2 separate regions of the Homo sapiens genome follow, and region 1 is reported to be linked to region 2. The links are microRNA targets in miRTarBase. Many come from high-throughput screens and were not tested one by one. Region 2 holds a microRNA gene; the other region holds the end of a gene's coding sequence. Distances are from middle to middle.
The links. The annotated mature microRNA hsa-miR-6732-5p reads UAGGGGGUGGCAGGCUGGCC and lies in region 2 at 4,506-4,525, opposite strand. An mRNA with a match to its seed (bases 2 to 7 or 8) in the 3' UTR can be bound and repressed. Matches are read on the target gene's strand: a 7mer-m8 pairs with bases 2 to 8, a 7mer-A1 pairs with bases 2 to 7 and ends in A, and an 8mer does both.

Region 1: miRTarBase lists CD55 as a target of hsa-miR-6732-5p. The part of its 3' UTR that is shown has no 7-base or 8-base seed match.

Annotation. Positions count from the first base shown.
Region 1 is chr1:207,358,236-207,365,336 of GRCh38, forward strand. It overlaps CD55 (CD55 molecule (Cromer blood group)), which reads left to right. Exons shown (of 10, transcript NM_000574.5): 10 at 1,311-2,731. The coding sequence ends at 1,375. Among named protein-coding and RNA genes, the nearest start is that of CD55, 40 kb to the left of the region's middle.
Region 2 is chr1:37,477,641-37,484,759 of GRCh38, reverse strand. It overlaps MIR6732 (microRNA 6732), which reads right to left and starts at 4,530; the gene lies at 4,471-4,530. ZC3H12A (zinc finger CCCH-type containing 12A) reads right to left here. Exons shown (of 6, transcript NM_025079.3): 3 at 4,331-4,470; 4 at 2,925-3,159; 5 at 2,220-2,326; 6 at 383-2,023. The coding sequence ends at 1,149. RefSeq lists enhancers at 293-422, 4,182-5,008, 4,778-5,072, 4,846-5,385, 5,009-5,835.

The DNA of each region.
Region 1 (7,101 bases), 170 Mb from region 2:
ATATGTTTGGCTAGCCTCCTGATTTCATACTGATTTAATTAAATATTTGATCTTAATTAAGACAGGATATAGTTAATGTGCAAGTGATAATGTGGTTTCATTTAATGATTCTTCATGTTTGCCTATCAGAGGATTGATTTATTTCTTTTAGAAGAGTTAGGTCTGTATGATAAATTTTAGTTTAGGGATGGAAGTGTAAGCAGATGCCTGACTTCGTTTTTTGATTGAAATGACAGTTACATAATTCAATTCAATAGTTTTTTTCTTCTCTACTATTCAGCTCTTATAATGCACATGAGAGCAACAAAGTACTCAATGTTGTGTTTGACCATTTAAGTGTGACTGGTGGTACCTCAGAAATAAGACTTTCTGGTAAATTATAAAAGGTATATATGGTTTAATAAAATTACATTTCTGTATCTTGCAAAATATCCATTAATACCCTTGGCTAGGGGGTTCTTCATGACTTTTAAAGGATAATAGAGGCTTAAGTCTCTGTCACTAGAGTTGTTTTTTTCTTTGTTGAATGACTAATACATTGAATCTCTCATTACTATGACATATCGTCAGTTCTGGACTTGGTAGCAGTAATGCTTATCATCTCATCCTACATTTTGAACTCAGTTTATTGTAACGATTAGATGCTATAATGCCACAAATATTCGGGGGGAAAGGGATGATACATTAGGACTTTTAAAGAGAATGCCTTCATTATGATAATTTGCATCATGAGATGGTTGACCTACCTTGTATTTCTCCTTTTGCTTGGTGGCTTTTAGAGTTTTCAATGTTTAAGAAAAATTATAATATGTGCTAAGATATCCTTTTATAGGTCATGTTTATAGATCTTAAAAGACATCTCATATCTTTATACAAAATTATCACACAAAAATAACTTGGTGTAAATGTATCTGTAAAACTTTCTGAGTGTCTTCATCTCTTAATCTTCTCTTCCACATGTAGTAGTATTCAGGGGTTTTTATTTATTTTTATATTTTTTTAACATCTCCCACACTTAGGAATTCATTGACTTTTAATCTGAAGGTACCTTAATTCATTCTAGCTTAGCCACTGTTCAACTCGAGAAACTAAAAACTCCACGTCACATTTTAGTTGTTGCTGTAGCTGATAAACCCCACCTGTAGAATCTTGTCCATATTCTATTACTCATTATTTTTTTTGTTTTGCACCCCAAATTAACTGATTCTTTTTGGTGATTTATCACATAGTAACTAAAAATTTATATTTATCACTAGTAAATAAAATCATTTTGATTTTAACTTTTTTTTTTTTTTTTTTTTAATTTTCAGGGCACACGTGTTTCACGTTGACAGGTTTGCTTGGGACGCTAGTAACCATGGGCTTGCTGACTTAGCCAAAGAAGAGTTAAGAAGAAAATACACACAAGTATACAGACTGTTCCTAGTTTCTTAGACTTATCTGCATATTGGATAAAATAAATGCAATTGTGCTCTTCATTTAGGATGCTTTCATTGTCTTTAAGATGTGTTAGGAATGTCAACAGAGCAAGGAGAAAAAAGGCAGTCCTGGAATCACATTCTTAGCACACCTACACCTCTTGAAAATAGAACAACTTGCAGAATTGAGAGTGATTCCTTTCCTAAAAGTGTAAGAAAGCATAGAGATTTGTTCGTATTTAGAATGGGATCACGAGGAAAAGAGAAGGAAAGTGATTTTTTTCCACAAGATCTGTAATGTTATTTCCACTTATAAAGGAAATAAAAAATGAAAAACATTATTTGGATATCAAAAGCAAATAAAAACCCAATTCAGTCTCTTCTAAGCAAAATTGCTAAAGAGAGATGAACCACATTATAAAGTAATCTTTGGCTGTAAGGCATTTTCATCTTTCCTTCGGGTTGGCAAAATATTTTAAAGGTAAAACATGCTGGTGAACCAGGGGTGTTGATGGTGATAAGGGAGGAATATAGAATGAAAGACTGAATCTTCCTTTGTTGCACAAATAGAGTTTGGAAAAAGCCTGTGAAAGGTGTCTTCTTTGACTTAATGTCTTTAAAAGTATCCAGAGATACTACAATATTAACATAAGAAAAGATTATATATTATTTCTGAATCGAGATGTCCATAGTCAAATTTGTAAATCTTATTCTTTTGTAATATTTATTTATATTTATTTATGACAGTGAACATTCTGATTTTACATGTAAAACAAGAAAAGTTGAAGAAGATATGTGAAGAAAAATGTATTTTTCCTAAATAGAAATAAATGATCCCATTTTTTGGTATCATGTAGTATGTGAAATTTATTCTTAAACGTGACTACTTTATTTCTAAATAAGAAATTCCCTACCTGCTTCCTACAAGCAGTTCAGAATGCCATGCCTTGGTTGTCCTAGTGTGAATAATTTTCAGCTACTTTAAAATTATATTGTACTTTCTCAAGCATGTCATATCCTTTCCTATTAGAGTATCTATATTACTTGTTACTGATTTACCTGAAGGCAATCTGATTAATTTCTAGGTTTTTACCATATTCTTGTCATCTTGCCAATTACATTTTAAGTGTTAGACTAGACTAAGATGTACTAGTTGTATAGAATATAACTAGATTTATTATGGCAATGTTTATTTTGTCATTTTGCTTCATCTGTTTTGTTGTTGAAGTACTTTAAATTTCATACGTTCATGGCATTTCACTGTAAAGACTTTAATGTGTATTTCTTAAAATAAAACTTTTTTTCCTCCTTAACCACAGTTATCACAACTAGCAGTTGTGATAGTTTCTAATTTCCTAATAGTTTCTAATATTAGGAAATTCTTTGAACTTTCCTAGAAGTTCTAAGAGTAGGCACATATCCATCCACCTATTCATTCATTCATTTGTTAAATATGAGGGCCCGCTCTGCCTATTCTGTAATAACCCAGTGCTTCCAGGGATAGCAATAACACTGGCTCAGCTATTCAGAAAAAAAGCTGAGTGCCTACTATGTGCAAGTTGTCATATGCTAAAATGTGAGCTTACCAAGATAACTGCAAGTGTCTGCCCTCAAGTTGCTTATAGTTTGCCACAGGAAGACCAAAATATATACTTATTGAGAGAAAGAAGATAAAGTTACGAGTGTTACAGCCCCGAATATGGTGGGTGCTTAAGCTGTTTGTTAAGCAGTTGAGTGGCAGGGAGGGAGATATTCAAGGCAGAAAGCTGATTGAGAAAGCAGTAATAGATGAGATTATAGTGGCAGGATGGTCGAAGTAGGAAAGGCTTAGAGCAAGGGCTAGACTATGTCATGTGTTCTGTGTAGAAGTGAAAATTTGTAAGCTCTAGACTTTTTATTCTGCTCGATCTAATTAGAATCAGTGAGCATAAAATAGGTTTCTAATAGCAAGAACTTGCTATTTAGATAAGGGTAAAAGCGGAAATACTATTAAACAGTCATTTACCTTGAAGAAAATATAAACAGTAGGCTTGTGAGGGTAAAGATATTTTCTTGTAGGATTTATATTTACCGTGTATCCTGTAGTTATGAGGTTGAGTGGTTTTATTTTTGCTTAAGATAACCTCTCCTGTGAGATTTTACTTTGATTGCAAAGGTTGTATTGCTTTTCCTCTTGAGACTGATGTATTTGTTACAGCAAGTTATACCTGCTCACTGTAGAAATTTGAGTTTTATAATATTTAGCCCCCTATCACTGTCACTTTTCTGGGAATACTTGAACATGAATAATTTTTGTCTTGTCACACCCTAGCCCTGTTTGCTTTGGTTAATGTCCAATGTGCAAATGCCTCATTTTCCTCCCACCCATCCTGAGTGTTTTCTTCCTCCTTACCGAAACTAAAAACAGCCCCTTCCCTGAAGGTACTGCTTCCTTTGCAGCCTATTCCAGTGGTGGCTGGTTTATTTTCATCCATATGACTCATTGTTAAGAGGTGGCGGAGGTGTTTTCCTTGTTCCTTTGTCATGTCTTCCATCTCAACCCCCACACACATCTCTTTAAAAAGAGTAACTGTCCATTCACTCTGGTAGGGTAATTTACTAAAATGTCAAATGTTTTTCCTATAATTCTCCTTGGTGAAAAGCATGGATTCTGGAGACAAATCGGAGCCCTGGCATTTATCAGCTGCAGGACTCAAGGGATGTTCCTTGTCAGTGTACCTTAGTTATCTATGTGTAAAGTGGGCCTAAAATCAGTACCAGCCTCATAGGATTTGCAATGAGAATTAAGTTAATACACGTAGAGCTTAAAATAGTGCCAGCCATGTAGTAAGTGCTCAGTAAGTTTTAGCTCTTTTTAGTGCACAGGTGGAGAGATTGCCTTAGGTGGAAGCATGCAGGGCTTCAGTACATACTAGGAGGGAACTGTTGCAGGTGGGTTGGAGATGCCCATGGTGGCAGCTTTTGGAAATTGATTTCACATTTCTTCTGTTTTCTCAGGGACATATACATCAAGGTCATCATAAAAATGATGACACATGAGGAGGTGTTATGTTTGAAGACAGGCAGAGAAGGAAAGGACTAGAGACATTTAGTCAATTAGCAGGCAATGCTAAAGACCCAGTTGAGGTGAGTGCTCATGAATTTAGAGTGCAATCATCAAGCTTCGTTCTGAGTTTTTCTGCAGTCATATTTAGCTTTCTAGATACAGTCTCAGAAAAAACCAGTTGCTTGGATTTAATCATGATTGGGTGTTCCCAGGTGAATTTGATGACGTGAGTTGAGCATGTGCACAAGGGAGTGATTAAAATGATGGACCATAGAATTTAAGCTATGTGAGAAGGGAAGTGAAGACATATGAGTGGTAAGAAACAATGAGTAACAGGATCAATATTTTGTAGACCTTAATGGGGTCATGTCATTGTTAGACTTGGGGTACTATTTAGGATGAACTAGAATGGTAATATGCAGTAGTGAGAAATAAGAATGCGTCAATTGAGGGTAAAACAGAATTGGCAACCAGAGGACAAAGCTGTCTACAAATACACTTCCCCTTCATTTTGGGCACAAAGTTAGACACATTTCCTGGCACTCTTGCAGTTAAGTGTAGACATAGGACTGAGTTCTGGCCAAAGGAACGTGATCAGAGATGTGTAGCATTTCTGGGTCTGGCCCTAAAACATCCCCATATGTGATCCTCCTTGCCTCCTTCCCTACACTGAGTTGATGAAAGTGACTGTAGTAACCTAGTAAGTCATGTGCTAAAGATAACAGAACCACAGAAAGGAAGGAGCTTGAGTCATTGCTTTGAGGAGAGCTGTCTGCTGATCAAGAACACCCACTTTAGATTTCATGTGAAGAAGAAATAAACTTCTGTAATGTTTGAGTTCTAACATTTTGGGGATTGGTGTGTTACGTTATTGTGGTTGACATTATCTAAACTAACACTGAAGCCTTCTAGATTTTGGTGATACAAGGGTTTAAACAGAACTATGGTTGTGAGAAGTTGAGATAAAATGGTGGACAAAAGTATTGGTGCGGAGGAGGCCATGGAACATCTTAATTGATACTGAAATCACCAAGAAGCATGGGGATTCATGTTAGAGAGTGATACTGAGTCAGGGGCTAAAATCTTCACGAAATGAGTGGTTTGTACATCTGAAGATGATTGCAAACAAGAAGATAGCAGGTGCTATATTCTGATGATACGTGACTCGAAGGAAAGGGTTTTGTGGAAAGGAAGGAGGACTGGTCTGCAAATAGCAATGATGAATAAAATAGGGCACCAACTTCACCTCTATGCCTGGTACTATGTGGAATGAAAGTGCAATGAGATATTTTTGCCTATCAGAGATTTGTTTGCACATTCAAACCCACTGTATGATCCTCTTCCACCCCTTGTTATTGCAATCCCCCTACTTTCTGGTCACCCACCCCTGTCTGTTGAGGGATTTGGAACTGGCTCACTGTCTCCCAACCATCCTACAATCTGGTATTATCCATAATTATTTCACATTGACAAGGATGACTCCTTATAACATCTGTGCCTCTGGTTTTATTGACCTTTTGATTTCTAATGACCTCCTTCACTCTACCTGAGTCACTCATCTCCATGGAACCTTCTTAAATCACTAATTCAGGCATATTTTCTTGCTCAATATAATCTTTTCCGCTTTCTAGTTTAGTTACTGCAGTATGTTCATCAACTCTCCACTTTCTTCCTATTTATAAGTCTCCTACTGTGATGGATATTTTCTGTTTGTTCATCCAGGACCACTCTCTAGCACACTCCAACTTGCTGTGACCTCAGAGGCTGACCTATAATGGAAGCTGTGGAGGGGAGAGCTGCATTCCTTCTAATTTTTGTTTTGTCTCAAAACACTCCACAACTTCTTATTTTATTTCACTTTTTTTTTCTACCATCCTATCACCAAAGGATGGCTCCCCTTCCTTTTGACCTTTTCCTCTTTTAGGAACTACACCTTTCAAAGGCTATCAACTCAGATCACATTATGTTTATGGCCCTTTCCTGAAGGTAGTGCTTGTAGTTAGTGCTCTGGTCTACAAGGACACCTTTTCAGCATTTTCATTTTTACGGCAGACTCTTACTTTCTGGCAATGGTTTTGGAGCAATTTGAGGACTTTGCTAGCTCAGCTTTTTTCACTTTCATTGAAGTCTTTCCACAGACTGCCCTTGCTCACCACAGAGGCTTCTAGGAGCAGTGTGAAGGACTCCTGGGTTGTTTTTGTTTTGTTTGTTTTCTTATAGGCAATTTGAAGTAGGTGCTTTGTCTTCTAGTTATGTTGAGAATGTGGTTTTCATGTGACCAGACTTCCTATTGGTGTGGCTGTGGAAAATCAGATGTTTTTATATATTATTGGTGGGAATGCAAACTGATACGGCCATTTTATAGGGGAATTTTCCAATATCTAAAAAAAACCCCACACATACGCATTTACCCTTTGATCCACCAGTCTCACATCTAGAAATGAACTCTGAAGATATACCTCCAATAATATGAAAATATACAGTACAAGGATATTCACCAAAACATTGTTTGTCATTGCAAAAGACTGGAAACCACCTAAATGCTCATATGTAGGACTTGCTCAATAAGCTATGTTATATCCAAACAGTGGAGCATTATGCAGCTCTGAAAAAAGAATGAGGAATATCTGTATGAAC
Region 2 (7,119 bases):
GTATTTTAGCTTCCTGTCCCACAAAAACAAACAGAAGCCCAAGTATATTGTAAGTAAGATTTCTTTTTGCAGATAAAACTGGACTCCAAATCCTTTTACACTTTTGCTGCCTAACTGCCCCCTCCAGCCCCCTGCCCGCTCGTGCGTCCATGGGCACCTCCTAACAAGGCCCAGACCAAGGCCTCGGGAAAGATGCCCCATCCCCAAGGAGCTATGCATTCCTGGTGAATGTTTGTTAGAAATCTTCCTTCCAGAGAAGGGTCAGGGAGCTGGTGTGGAGGGGCTTCCTCCTGGGGTGAAGGAGGTCGGGGTGCATACCTGCTGGCCTTTCCTCACCCAGAGGCCAGCCCAAAGCCCTGAGCATAACAAAGACAATCACCTCTTGAAAGGGCTCACAATGATTGTACTTTATTGATGTGTTACAGGAGGTAAGGACTTTCTGCTTAAAATATTTAAAATTTACATGTGCACACAAACAAACACAGGTTCCCCCACCCATGGGGAAGGGCGAGATGACTCTGAATAAAGGATGGAGGAGAAGAAGAGGGTGTAGACGGAGGGCCCTTGACCCCTACAGGGGCAGCAGGATAAGGAATAGAGTGGGGCAGAAGGTGGGTTATTAAGAAGCATCTTGCTTACTGACATGAAGCCACGTGCCCAGCGAGAGCACAGATGAGGCCTCATTGGCGTAGAGGAGGCCCTTGGAGGGCAGGCACACGGTGCCCAACTAGCCAGCCAAGGCCAACGTCCCAGGGGTAGGGCGGAAGTGGGGTGGCGTGCACAGGGCACCCAGCCCAGGCCTCTGCTGCCCCCACCTCCCTCCCCACCCTCTGAGAGAAAAGACGGTTTGGGCCTCAGCCACGGACCGACGCCGTTACCGGCAGCGTCTCCTTAAACTACAGAGATACAATGTGTATCAACAGGGTGATCGCTTCTGACCCACTGAGGCAGACAGCTAGAGGTGCTGCATGGGCCAGAACCAATCCTACAGTATCTTTGGTTTGTGGGTTTCCTTCCCGACTTGAATCCTCCCTCTGTCCAGCCTCTGGGGTGGGCCTCAGGGCTGGGAATGGGCTGCTCAATGGCCCAAAGCCCAGCCTGACGGCCCTTGGAGGCTGGGGGTGCTGCCCTTGCCAGCCACAGGCAGCTTACTCACTGGGGTGCTGGGACTTGTAGGAGAGGATCTCGGCAGCCAGCTGCTGGGGGTCCAGGAGCTGTGGGAAGCGCCCCATCACAGCCTCCACCAGGTGCGGGGGAAACACACCACACAGCTTAGTATACACGCTGGCCTGCTCCTTGGCCAGGCTGCCTGCCCTGCCCCACGGGCTCCTGCCAGCCCCTGGGCTCTGCACTGGGGGCTCCTGAAGGACTGATGTGGGTGGGGGCAGTGGGTATGGTTCAGACCAGTACTCTCGAGGTGGAAAGGCAGGGGGCGCGGGTGGGTAGTCGGCAGGGACACTGAAGTGGCCAGCACCCATGGCCCGGCCAAAGGCAGAGAAGGCTGCGGTGGCTGGGAGCTCAGATCCATAGGGACTGTAGCCCGTGTAAGGGGCTCGGGGTGGGCCCGGCTCACCAGGGCCTCCTCCTCGAACCCCCCAAAGTTCCGACATCTGGCTCTCCAGGGAGCCAATGCCCGAGTCCAGGCAATCCTGGGAGACGTACGGGAGTGAGTCCAGCGTCTGTGGGAGCCAGTCTGTGGGCCCAAAGCTGCTGCCACTGCCCCCGCTAGGTGCGAGGCTCCTGCCTGATGGGGCATAGGTCTGTGTTAGACCCTCTTGGCGGGACCCTGGGGATGCCTGGGCCCCCAGCTTCTTCCCATCCAGGCTGCACTGCTCACTCTCTGTTAGCAGAGAGCTGGACTGGGATGAAGGTGAAGGCCGCCGGCCATTTTTGTCCTTGCTTGGGGCTCTGGGGGGTGAGAGGAGAGCATTGGCACGGAGCTCATCTGCCACAGAGCGCTGGGGGCAGCTTGGCCGCTCTGGGTGGAAGAATCGGCACTTGATCCCATAGGTGCATTTCCTTCCTGGAAGAGGAATCAAGAGGGACTCTAAGCAGGGGCACTTCAGAACCAGGGATGAGAGCAGGGAAGGGGTGGCACAGGAAACGGGGTTGGGTGGTCCAATGGTGGAGGTCCCCAAGAGGAAAACAGGGCACAGGCAGACAGGTGAGAGGAAGGGCAGGAGTGAGGAGGGCCGGGGAGGGCAGGCTGGGTTCCATACCATAGGGACACGGCTGCTTCCTGTGCTCCAAAGTGAGTGGCTTCTTACGCAGGAAGTTGTCCAGGCTGGGCCCGTGCCGGCCCAGTGGGTCATCAGGGGGCATAAACCTGCAGAGGGTGCAAAGAACTCTCTGGAGGTGGGAGCCATGCAGGGACTTCTAATTGCTGAGAAGGGGCCGATGGCAAGCCTTGCTGGGAAGAATAGGAGAGTGACACCTAAAACTGGGGCCTGTCCAGGACCCCGCAAAACTGCTCTATGGGTGGGATCATACCAAGGGAGGAGAAAGGGATCCCCGGTCTAGAGGGCCACAGCCCATGGGCACCTTTAGGGGAACTCCCTCTCTGAGGTCGTCGGGGGATGGCAGCCCGCACCCACTGGCCCATGGCCTCTGCTCGAGAGATGCCATGTTGGTTCGTAGAGAGGCCACCTGGAACCATCAACCACATACATCCCCTCATAAGTGCTACGGCTCTATCTCCCAAATTAGCCACTCTCTCCACCCCACAGCCTGCCTGGTCCCGGTCTGATTTCTCCTATGTGGTGAGCTATCCGTCTCACTCTCAAAGCTGCCTGGAGCCAAGACCCGCAACCTCCCATGGCCACAGGGCCCCGCAGAGCCCAGCCCCCAGCTCCACCCTTGCCAAGGGCACCTCTGGCTTCCCCTGTGGACCCCAAGTCTGTCAGGGCCTCTGGGAGGGAACATACTTGTCATTGACGAAGGAGTACATGAGCAGCCGCTCCTCGATGAAGCGCTTCCACTCCTGCCGCTCGCCTTGGAGGTCACGGTATGTGTCGTTGGAAACCACGATCCCGTCAGACTCGTAGGCCAGCTTCACAATGAATCTGTCGTCATAGCACACCACCCGCTTGCCACCCACGCGTCGTGATGGTGTGAACACCAGGATCTTCTTCTTCTCCAGTTCCCGCAGGATGTGCTGGTCTGGGAGGTGACGGGTGCACACAGGTCAGGGCCCAGCGGGACCTAGAGCCAGGCCTACAGGGCTCCCTAACCTGCTGATGGCCACACACAGGAGTGGTTAACGCCAAGGTCACCGGGGCAAGAACTAACTCTGCTGAGGCCTCTTCCATGCCCCAGCCCCTCCCTTGGCGTGGCACAGTTTGCTGCCTGAAGACCAAGAACATCTGAACACAGGCGGCAGGGCCTGCATGGCAGAGGCTCCAAGCACAGAGCTGGCCTTGTTCCTTTTCTCCTTCTGGACATCAGGCCTGTTCAAGCCAGATGTGGTCTTGGCTTTGGCTTTCATCCAGCCTGTTCTGAGGGGTCCGTGAATGAGCCGCAGCTTGCTCTGGGGTGGGAGAAGTATCTTGGCTCTGTCCCTTGCATTGCCAGGACAAGGTCGCTAAATCCCATGGTGGGAAAAGGTCAGGCCACTCACCATGCCCCACCTGGGGAGCTGCTGGGACCACAGGGACACAGAAGTGTGCAAGTGGAAAGGGCCCCTCTTCCTGGAGCCTACAGTCCCAGACAGGCTGCCCCCAGATCTCAAGACTTCTAGAGAAACTGATTCAGTTTTTACCTCCAAAGGCTGGGGGCTCTTGCAAGAACAGTGGTAACAGCTAACATACACTGAGCATCTACCATGTGCCAGGTACTCTTCTCAGCACTTACCGTGTGTTAACTTATATGACCTCACGAGGAAGGCAATGCTGTCAACACCCCCTGCTGACACCGACCCCATGTTTCAGATGAGGAGCATGTGGCTCAGAGCAGGGCTAAGAGGGGTCCCTGTCCAGGCCAGGGCGCCAAGAGGGGACAGAGCCAGGATTCCAACTCTGGCTGTCTCGACTCAGAGCCCACAGGCTTAACCACTATGTGATACTGCGCTTCTGCCACTGGGGATGTTGAAAGAGCGACCTGCCCACCAGTAGGATGAGGGAGGGGCTCCAGATCTGAGGCAGAAGACTGGACAAGGTGACCTCCAATGACCACCATTCAGAGCAGGTTGCTAAGGACAGAAAAAACTGAGAAAAGAAATGCTGGTCCCTGCTTGAGTTCTAGAAGTTGTAGGTCACTCCCAGAGGGTCTCTCTTGGGGAGAACCAGGGCTGCTGGGGCAGTAAGACCATCCCACCTCCAGAGGCACCACTCACCTGTGATGGGCACGTCGGGCCGAGGCTGCTCCTTCCTCCAGGATGGCACAAACACTGTGATGTCTGTGTGGCCCCGCTCCAGAAACCAGTTCACTGCCAGCAGGATGCCCCGGCAGGAGAAGACCTCCTTGTTCCCATGGCTGGGAGGGAGAGGACAGGGTTAGCCCACACTGATGGCCAGCCTGCCACCCCCTAGGCCTGAGCAGGAGGAGGGAGGTGGTCACACCCCACCCCTGCCCTGGCTTTGGTGGTGGTAGTGAGCAGTCCCTTCCCCTTTGGAGTCACCAGCCCCTTCCCCTTTCCCCAGGGCTCAGGCCCTGGCCCTCTGCAGGTGGGGCCCAAGGCCAAGGCCTCCATTCCCAGTGCCAGTTCCCACAGCTCCAGGATGGCCAGGCCCCGCTGGGACTTTCCCTGAGGCTCCATCTCCTGAAAGTGAGGAAGCGCCCAGGAAGCTGGCAGCACTGCTCCCCACGGTGGGGGAGGGCCAGGCCACTTGCAACACACCTGGGGGTGGGGGAAAGGTGCCGCGAGACTTCTGGTTCCTGCCCCACCCGGCGAGCTGCCGGGACCACAGGGACAGATGTACACATGCACACTGAGTCACCACCCCTCCCTCGCCTCTTGCAGCGTGGGTGGGGGCGGGGGAAGCACCGGCTGGGCTGACCGAGGAGAAACCAGATTGTTCCGGATTAAAGTTCAGTCCTCACACACACCTCAGGGACTGGGGCCTGAGAAAGGCAAAGGGGAAGGGGCTGGCGACTCCAGCCTTCAGCATGGGACAGAAAGCGCCGGAGTGAAGCAAGTTCCCCAGGAGCCTTTCAGTCTGAAAGTGAAAGGATACTGCTTTTCCTCCCAAGATGGCAATTCCCCCAAATGCCTCTTCACCCCAAGGCAGAAAGACCATCAGGAAGATGCTAGGGGACTCTTAGCAAGGACAGCTGAGTAAGGCATGGGCCCTGCCTTGGTCTCAGACGAGGCCGCGCCCCACCCACAGGTGGCTGCACCCAGAAGGAAGCCTGGCAGGGCTCCTGGGCTGCCGCAGCTCTCCGTTCCTCTATCTGAAAATGGGCCCAGCAGTCTGCAGCTTCCTTAAGAGGGGTCAGTCAGTGGGACAGCTTTCCTGGTGGCTTCAGGCCAAAGATGGCCCTGCAAAGTAGGGGTTCCAACTGGATTTCCTGAGGGATGGGGGACTGGGGCTTGGGGCTCCCAGGTAACACTAGGTGTCATGGAAGAGCTCCTAGGACCAGCAGCCCCACGTCTCACTGCCCCCTCAGTGAACAGCTTAGACTCTCGTATTTGGCAAATAAAACAGAATAAATGTTACGCAAAAGAGGCAAGTCCAGGGCCAACCACATCCTGTGGGTGTCTTTAATGGGAGTGGGGGAGGTAAGGGGTGATAGCTGGAGCCCTAAGAGAAGCTAGGGAGGGAGGTGGGGCAGCTGGGGGCCATGGAGGCTATTTGGGGGCAAGACTGGGGCACCAGGGTCTGAAGGTCTCTAAATTGTAGGGGAGACAAAGTCCAGCCCAGGGCAGCACTCATCCTTCCCGGTCCCTCTGCCACATCTGCCAGCCTGCTTATAATAAAAGTTCCCATTTGCTGAGAGCTGTGAACCAGGCCCTGTTATAAGTGTCTAACACTGAATCATCAGCAAGCTTGTGAGGAGGGCACTATACCATCATCAACTCCTTCCCTGTTTTTCAGATGAAAACTGTGGTCCAGAGAAGGCAGCTTAGTCACCAGGGTCACACAGCAGTTAACGGTGGAAGAGAGACGCAAGCCCAGGGCCTATGCTTATCACTACCCTGTACGTCAATGCTCAGGCAGGTACGAAGGCAGGCACAGACCCTGATCGCAGGGAATGAGCAGGGATTCGCAGGCACTGAGCTCCCGCTGGTGGCCAGATATATGGCTTCATTCTTATAGGGCTTGCTACCGTGAAGGAAAGGAAGGTCACCTGGCTAGTGGTAAGAGACAGTCAGAACTCGAACCCAGGTCTGGGCCACTCGGTTGCCTTCCTGTCTCTAACAGAAGATCCAGAATTTATTTGGGAGAACAAAGCTCCCAAAATTGAGTTTGAACAAAGTGTGTTATGAGAGACAGGTGGCGAACGGGAGAAACAATGCTGCTGGCAAACTCCTGCTCTTCCTTCAGAACCCTTGTGAGATGTCACTGCCTCTGAGAAGCCTTCCCTGACCTGCCACAATAGGTCAGGTCCCTGGTCTGTGTCTTCACAATGCCCAGTGCTTCCCCCATCACATCACCCCCCTTCCTTGGGCCTTCTGGCCTGCCTCTCAAAACCATGGCAGCTGGGTCATCCCAGGCCTGGCTCCTTGTCTCAGGTATGCAGTGTGCGCATGTATCCGCCCACCTGCCTCCCTCCGGGCACATGATCCTAGGCTAGTATCTTGGAGCACTGGGAACTAATGGGATGCCAGGGCTCTCAGGGCAGTGCACTGCCTGTGGGCACTGAAAATCTTGGCTGGGACAAGTCGGTTCTCAGCAGCCCTAGCACCTGAATATTCCCTCAGCAGATGGAAAAACTGATCAGTGGGCGCTATCAGAGCCCTCCTCCTGGTAGAGCACATGAGGCCTGGAGTGCCCCCCTACAGCTAGCTTTAGTCTCTTTCACTGCACTGGAGGAAGCGCTGCTGGCACAGGAAAACCAGACATCCCTGCCCCCATTCCAGTTCTCTTTGCCTGTAAGGTCAGGGTCCCCCAGCCGGGCTAAGCAGACACTGATAGGATGTGTGTGTAGAAGACTCCAGCTAGGCTGCTCCTGCCCCAGGAC